2 separate regions of the Homo sapiens genome follow, and region 2 is linked to region 1. Evidence: fine-mapped expression QTL. A gene starts in region 1. The other region holds a variant in brackets. All regions are shown on one strand. Distances are between the middles of the regions. Region 1 holds the start of ILK (integrin linked kinase). Region 2 holds the start of MRPL17 (mitochondrial ribosomal protein L17).

Region 1 (4,226 bases):
AGTCTGATTTCTTCACCCATTATTCTGAAACAACACTCACAGATGGTCAAATACATCCTAACTGCACACTGAGGGGAGCAACAGACACTGGGGCCTACCAGAGTGGGGCGGGTAGGAAGAGGGAGGGATCAGGAAAAATAACTAATGGGTGCCACGGCTTAATACCTGGGTGATGAAATGATCTGCACAACAAACCTCCATGACCTGAGTTTACCCATCCAACAAACCTGCACATGTACCCCTTAACTTAAAAAAAAAAAACCCAACTGTAAATTCAATGGCTACTTTAAAATATTAATGTTCTTTGATCTCTCAGTAGCCTGTACTGCCGTTGACTACCTCCCCTTCATTAAAACATTCTCTTCTGTAAGCTTTACTCACACATTTTCCTATTTCTTTTTCAACTTGCGGTTGCTCCTTTTCTGTCGTGCAGGCTTCCTGTCCCCTGACCTCTTGCCTTCCACTCTCCTGAGACGTTCTCCTTCACAACCACGTCTTCAAGTATCATCTATATATATGATATATATATGCTATCTATATGCTGATAGCTCTCAAATCTGTGTCTCCAAGTCAGATTCCTCCCCTGAATTGCAAATCTGCATAACCAACAACACACTCAACATTTCCACCTTGCTGTATTGTCACCTTAACTTTAACATGTCCAAAATAAAATGCCTCATCCTCCAGTTTTCTCCATCTCAGTAAAAACAACCAAGTTCCCAAGCCAGAACCCTGGTCCTCATCTTTGCCCTTACTCACTCCCCACACCAAGTTCCACAATTCTTCGTCCTAAAGACTTCTGGAATTTGATCACTTCTCTTTTTCACTCACCCTAATTCTAGTCCAAGACATCATTACTTCTACGATGAACTAGGCAATTGCCTCCTTTCCACCTGCTCTTCACAAAGCATCCAAGACGATACTGAAAAATGGACAATCTCATTATGTCACTATACAGCTTTAAAACCTTGCTTTTAAAATAAAGACCTTCTTATAGCCTAAATATGCTTGCATGATCTGGCTGATCCTTGGAGACCTCTACAGTCTTATGTCCTGTTCTTTTCCTCTTGTACCCAATGCTCCGACCCACAGAGATCATCTATCCTCCAGCCATATGGAACTCCAGACAATTTCCTGTTCTCTCTGCTCTGTGCCTTGCCCCCTAGCCTTTGGCCATGCAGTCTACTGAGGCTGGAAAGCTCTCTGTAGCCTCTGCCTGTGAAACTCTTATTCTGCAGTCAAGATTCAGCTCAAACTGCGTCCTCTGTGAAAACCCTCTGCCCCCCACAGGCTATGCTTAGCACTCATTACACTGGCTAGCAAAGGCAGCCGCCACCACCAGACATGAGCACTCCACTCCACGTAGCCAGGAGATCTCTAGCCTTCCTCTCATCCACCAACCGTTTCAGCTCACCCCTGGTTGAGGTCGTTCTCCGTGTTGTCCAGCCACAGGCGAACGGCGACTGCGTTGCCCTCCCGGCACTGAGTGAAAATGTCGTCCATAGCAGCGTCCCGGCGCCGAGTCCCCTGGATTGGGGAAGCCTGAGGACTGTGGAGTGATCCAGGGAAGGAGGATGAACCCCAAGCTTTATCCTCTACAGGAGAGAAGTGTTTGTGTTGGGGGTAGGGGGCCTGAGCTGCGTCCCCGGCTAGTGGGGGTCTGTGAAGGAGTTCGGGGCTGCGGGATGATCCCTGGCTGTGTCCTCTAGACGCGAGGTAAAGGCGGGTCAGGGTGGGCAGGGGGTGACGAAGAGGTAGTGTCTGCTGAACGGATGTCCGAGAGCAGGCAACTAGACCCTATCCGCGAACAGAGTTGGGGGAAGTGGGGAGGTTCAGGCTCCGTATACTCTGGGAGAGGGGACCGGGGGTCCTCCCCAGGGTTGGCTCCGTTCCTTACTTGGGACTCAGGAGAAGTGAGGGGTGACAGGGGGCGCGGGTCCTCTCGCACTCACCGGGACTCGGGCTGCAGGATCCTTCTCCGGGGAACTCCCGTCCGGCCGCGCCCGCAGCCCGCCGCCGGCCCCGCCCCGCCCGTGGCGCTCTTGGGCAGCGCGGGCCTCCGTCCCTCCCCTCCCACCGCCTCCCTGCCCTTCTAGCCGCGCCTGGCTAAACTCGATGGTTCGCTGCGCCGCGCCGGCCGCTCTAGCAACCCCTGGCTGTCACGCTTTGGTTTCCGGGTCGGTTCTGGCAGGTCTGAGCGCTCCGACTTCCAGAGGAGCGCTGTGCACGTGGAGAAGAGCGGGGACTCGGCGACCCTGCCCTCCCGACCCTCATGTTCGAAGAGCCTGAGTGGGCCGAGGCGGCCCCAGTAGCCGCGGGCCTTGGGCCCGTAATCTCACGACCTCCGCCTGCGGCCTCCTCGCAAAACAAGGTGAGTGACTCGCGGGAGCAATGGGAGCTGTTTCAGGCCGCGAAGCGGACATTGGTGGATCCCAGCGCTGTGTGTATTGCGGGGAGGGACACCTGTGGCACCGTTAAGGGCGAGTCCTGATCTGAAGATCCGAGAACTTCCAAAAGAAACTGACGTTGGGTCAGAGAGAGTTGTTGAGTAGAAGTTGGTGAAGCGAAGAGGGTTCTTCAGACAGGAAAAAGTACGTACAAGGGCCCTGGGACAAGAGAGCATGTTCTGTCAGAGTCACAAACACAAGTGGTCCTTGTGGTTGAAATACATAGTAAATGAAAGGGGCATATATGCTGTTCAAGTTCAAGAGGTAGAAGTTTTGCGTATATTGAGAATAGAAGCCAATGAAAGGTTTTAAGCAATGGAATTATTTCTTCAGATTTGTATTTTGAAAGGGTCGTCGGTTACAGTGTGGAGGATGGATTGGAGACAGTAAGAGTTGTCAGTATCATTGTTCAAAGGAGGGTGTGGGAAACTTAGAATCAGGGTAAGTGCCTGGCCTAGGATTACCTGGTAGGACTGCAACACAGAATCAGCCTTCCCGACAATACATCTTCTCCTTTGAGCCTCTGCAGATGTGAGGGCCCTGCTTCCTCAGGCTTTTCTTACCCTTCAGTCTGCCTCCAACATGGAATCGGCCTGCTTTGTTTCCTCCTTTTTCATCCCCTAGCCCCATTACCATTGTCCAAGCCGCTGGCCTCTCTGTCTGCAATTTCTCCCCTTCAGTTTGTTTTCTACACTGCAGCTAGAGACATGTTAAATATTTAATATACGTGTGTGATCATGTGTCTCCTGTGTTCAGAAGCCTCCTTACCTCTTACAGAAATGTATCAGCTCTAGGCAAAAGCTCAAGGTGAAGGGTTGGAATTCCTGGTCTCTGGCCTTGGTCTTGTTGCTTGTGGCCTTTGCATTTTCCTTTGGGGAAACCTCCATTAGCTCATTTACACATTGAAGAAAGTGGGATAGGTGGTTTCTCTGCTCTCCAGCTTCCCAGAAGTTGGGGTGGTGACATAAAAGTTCTTCTGGGTTCTGGCAGGCTTGACTGGGAAGAATTCAGATGCTTCTGCCAGTCTGAATCAGGTCCACATCTCTCCCTTCTTGTTCTCCAGGCCTCATCCATTCTCTTTAGGCCCACTGTCATCCCCTGTTTTCCTCCAGGGCTCCAAGCGCCGCCAGCTCTTGGCCACATTACGGGCCCTAGAGGCAGCATCTCTTTCCCAGCATCCCCCCAGCCTATGTATAAGTGACTCTGAGGAGGAGGAGGAGGAAAGGAAGAAGAAATGCCCCAAAAAGGCATCATTTGCCAGTGCCTCTGCTGAAGTAGGGAAGAAAGGGAAGAAGAAATGTCAAAAACAGGGCCCACCTTGCAGTGACTCTGAGGAAGAAGTAGAAAGGAAGAAGAAATGCCACAAACAGGCTCTTGTTGGCAGTGACTCTGCTGAAGATGAGAAAAGAAAGAGGAAATGCCAGAAACATGCCCCTATAAATTCAGCCCAGCACCTGGACAATGTTGACCAAACAGGTACCATTGGATGTGTATATGTGTGTGTGTTGGTGTGTGTGTGTCGGGGGGTCAGCTGGTTCTACATACAAGAGTGATTATCCACTGCCATTAGGATTGGGGCTAATGGTGTACTCAGGCAATAAGAAGTACTTCTCTGCAGGCCACAGTCACGATCTCAAAGACAGAGGTATGGCTGGGATGACTTGCCGTGACTCCGAATGTAAGAGATCTTGCCTCATGTGCACCTTCCCATCTCCCTCCCTGTAGGTCCCAAAGCCTGGAAGGGTAGTACTACAAATGATCCACCAAAGCAAAGCCCTG
Region 2 (4,000 bases), 80 kb before region 1:
CTCTACTAAAAATACAAAAAAAATTAGCCAGGCATGGTGGTGGGCGCCTGTAATCCCAGTTACTTGTGAGGCTGAGGCATGAGAATCGCTTGAACCCAGGAGGTGGAGGTTGCAGTGAGCCGAGACCGCACCATTGCACTCCAGCCTGGGCAACAAGAAAGAAACTCCGTCTCAAAAAAATATATATATATCCTGGTGAAAACATCTTAGTGAAATTTTTCAACTGCAAAGACAATTGAAAACTACAAGAATTGCTCCCAAAGAAACAAAACATGAATGGTAATTGTAATTTCTGTAATTTATTGTAAATTTCTTTAATTGTGAAGTGTGATTTGTATAAATCTGTCAATGTATTTATATGTTCATGACTTTTCCTATTTGCATATTTGTTCCTTCATATTAAAGAAACTTTTCAAAATTAAAATTAGCAAAGAAGTGTTCTTTGGTCACCTATAAGCTGACAAAGTGACAAATCTATACGTCTACTGAATATGTACATGTAAAGAGGAGTGAATTCATTTCCTAAGACTGCTGTAACAAACTATCACAAACTGTGGAACTTAAAACAACAGAAATTTATTGTTTTGTGGCTCTGGAGGCTAGAAGTAAGAAAGCGATGTGTTAGCAGCAGGGTCATGCTCTCTGACAGATCTGAAAAAGAATGCGTTTTATACCTTTCCCTTGGCTTCAGGTGTGCTCCAGCAATCCTTGGTGTTCATTCATTGATTTGCAACTGCTTGACTCCATAATCTCTGCTTTCAAGGTCACATGGCTTTCTGCCTGTATGTCTCTGTCTTTACCTGGTCAGCATCACCCTGTGTCCATCTCTCTCTCTTCATGCGCATTTTTTTTTTTTTTTTTTTTGAGATAGAGCCTCACTCTGTCGCCCAGTCTAGAGTGCAGTGCCCGATCTCAGCTCACTGCAACCTCCACCTCCCGGGTTCAAGCTATTCTCCTGCCTCAGCCTCCCGAGTAGCTAGAATTACAGGCATGAGCCACCACGCCCGGCTAATTTTTGTGTTTTTAGTAGAGACGGGGTTTCGCCATGTTGGCCAGGCTGGTCTCGAATTCCTGACCTCAGGTGATCCGCCCGCCTCGGCCTCCCAAAGTGCTGGAATTACAGGAGTGAGCCACCGTGCCCGGCCTGCATATATGTATGTACGTATATATGTGTCTATCTATCTAGCTAGCTAGACACTAGGCATTTTGGATTAGGCGCCCACCTATGCCTGCATGACTTCATCTTAACAAATGACATCTGCAATGACCCTATTTCCACATAAGGTCACATTCTGAGTTACTGCAGGTTAGGACTTAACATAGCTTTTTGGGGACGGGAAGAATCATGGGGAAGACACAATTCAACCCATAACAAGGAATAATTTTGACAGTCATTGCCAATTTGCAGATGTTAAGGCTCAAAAACAAACTATAATATTATTGTTCATTAACACATAAATGTGTAGGTATGTTTTTTCCCCTTAAAAAGACACACTGGTGTAATTAAAAACAATCTACTACTTTTCCCTTTAGTGCTGTAATTTTTTTAACTGGAGTGATTACTTCAATAAAAGAAAAATTTCACTATCTGCGTTTCTTTTCCGGGCATCGTTATTATCCATCTCACCATTACTACTGAAAATCACTGTGTTAAAAACAATGCGTACAGGTGTCAACCAGGCCAGCTGGCCACTGCTGGACCCGGTAGGGCCGTCAGCCCGCAGGACCCCGAACCCTCCGGGTGCCTTTCTCTTCAGACGCTCTCTTTCCCAGGAGTCTCCGCGGCGGAGCGCCCCATCGCCCTAAATGCCACTGGCTGACGCAGCCCCAAAAAAAACCCGATGGCCCGCTTATCCCACACTAGGGGGCGCCTGGTTCTTCGGCCGCCACAGAGCGCTCTGGATGCCTGAAGCCCGCCCAGCTCGCCGCCTCTGGAAAAGCTCAACACCGTTTCTCCGCCCTTCCCGAGATTGCCAACGAGGCAGGCTCTGATGCGCATGCGCAAACACGTTCACCACGCTCCGAGCTAAGGCGC[A/C]TGCGTTCCCTGAAATTGCCGCCACCGGCTCTACCTTCCAGTTTCCAGTTCCGGCCTCCAAGGGGCGGGCAGAAGTTGGAAACATGCGGCTGTCGGTCGCTGCAGCGATCTCCCATGGCCGCGTATTTCGCCGTATGGGCCTCGGTCCCGAGTCCCGCATCCATCTGTTGCGGAACTTGCTCACAGGGCTGGTGCGGCACGAACGCATCGAGGCACCATGGGCGCGTGTGGACGAAATGAGGGGCTACGCGGAGAAGGTGAGGAGCGCGGCCCTCTTGTCCACTCTGCGGGTCTGGTCTGAGGGGGCGGAGCCGGCTGCAAGTGGAAAGGGACCGGGACCAACCTGGTAAACCATTCCCCAAGTCTGAGTCCCCCAGAACCTTGGGCTGAACCCGCCCCTCCATCGCCTCTAATGGAAGACTGGTTAGGGCTGCGGAGTTAGGGGTGGCGTAGATTGGAGATGCTTGGCTAGTGGAAAGAATGGATTGCCTTCCGGCATTAGAGAAATTAGATTGGCACCTTGTTTTCTTGCTCGGTTGGATCCGTGATGTTATGTCCTCACAGCTCATCGACTATGGGAAGCTGGGAGACACTAACGAACGAGCCATGCGCATGGCTGACTTCTGGCTCACAGTGAGTGCGACCTATCTGCCTTCAAAATCCCACCCTTTGCTCCCTGGGGGTGGGGGTTGGAAAAAGGAGAACTATGCAGAATTAAACTTGGGTACTCACTTATGGGCCAGTGCTGCTAACTAAATTAGAAACTGTGTCTTAAGTTAGTTGAAGTCGATGTGAATATACCTCTGCACAACTGCCTATAAACGACCCCTTTGTGTAACACTGACTATGCCAGATTGGCGAGGGGAGGGGGAGGTCTTTCTATGTGTGGATGGACCTTACCTTTGGGAATGGTGTAAAGTTAAATGCCTCTGCAGTTTTGCCTGACTCTGCTGTCTCTTGGATAATTCTCCCTCTAGGAGAAGGATTTGATCCCAAAGCTGTTTCAAGTACTGGCCCCTCGGTACAAAGATCAAACTGGGGGCTACACAAGAATGCTGCAGATCCCAAATCGGAGTTTGGATCGGGCCAAGATGGCAGTGATCGAGTATAAAGGGAATTGCCTCCCACCCCTGCCTCTGCCTCGCAGAGACAGCCACCTTACACTCCTAAACCAGCTGCTGCAGGGTTTGCGGCAGGACCTCAGGCAAAGCCAGGAAGCAAGCAACCACAGCTCCCACACAGCTCAAACACCAGGGATTTAACTGGATCTGAAGAGTCTGCAGCCCTTAATCAGTACCCATGATCACAGGCCTTTGGAGCACTTTTACTCTCTGAGAAGAACTGGAGCTAGAGATGTAAAATGGACAGTCTTGATGGGGTTGAGAACCTTCTGGGGAGCCAGATGACCCTCTCTTTGCACAATAGATAAAAGTCTTTATATGAATATATATAAATTTATTTATTTTTTCCTTCCTGTGGGATTTCTGGAGAATGAGAATTATCCAAATGCTCAGTCTACCTGAGATAGTAAATTCATGGCTTATGCTTCTGGTCCTTAAATTTGGGTTATTTTTGGTTAGTGCAATTTTGTTTTTCTTAATGCCAGTTTACATGGGAATGCATCCTATAATTCCAAATGTTGCCAGAGGTGGTTGTGTTTTGACATCTGGTCTCCTAGAGATGAGTGCTTGGGATTTCTTAGAGAAAGATTACTTCCTGACAGGGGTAGGGGAGTGACAATCTGCAAGTGAAACTTCCTTAAACAATCTAGTACCCTGCGAACCTTCAGGGGATACTGCAATCAGTCCTCTGTTTTGAGGCAGGATCACACATTACCTTAATGTGTTCCCTTCAACCCCCTGAATGGGCCTGGGAGGAGAGGACCCAAGAACTCAGATGTTCCACCAGTTTGGCCAAAGGGGTGGAGACATTCAGCAGAGGATGTTGGGCTCCAGGATAAGCTCC

Evidence for each region. PIP is the estimated chance that this variant, and not a neighbour inherited with it, causes the effect.
Region 2: its variant is fine-mapped to the expression of ILK in whole blood (TOPMed, PIP above 0.99).

Annotation. Positions count from the first base shown.
Region 1 is chr11:6,601,549-6,605,774 of GRCh38, reverse strand. It overlaps ILK (integrin linked kinase), which reads right to left and starts at 2,001. Exons shown (of 13, transcript NM_004517.4): 1 at 1,953-2,001; 2 at 1,415-1,595. The coding sequence starts at 1,503. RRP8 (ribosomal RNA processing 8) reads left to right here and starts at 2,159. Exons shown (of 7, transcript NM_015324.4): 1 at 2,159-2,371; 2 at 3,560-3,923; 3 at 4,173-4,226. The coding sequence starts at 2,273. RefSeq lists enhancers at 980-1,139, 1,370-1,609, 2,200-2,389, 2,385-2,926 and a silencer at 1,920-2,129.
Region 2 is chr11:6,681,415-6,685,414 of GRCh38, reverse strand. It overlaps MRPL17 (mitochondrial ribosomal protein L17), which reads left to right and starts at 2,075. Exons shown (of 3, transcript NM_022061.4): 1 at 2,075-2,292; 2 at 2,600-2,668; 3 at 3,013-4,000. The coding sequence starts at 2,119. The coding sequence ends at 3,297. RefSeq lists enhancers at 1,915-2,354, 1,771-2,533. The variant A/C (reference allele first, on the strand shown) is at 2,036.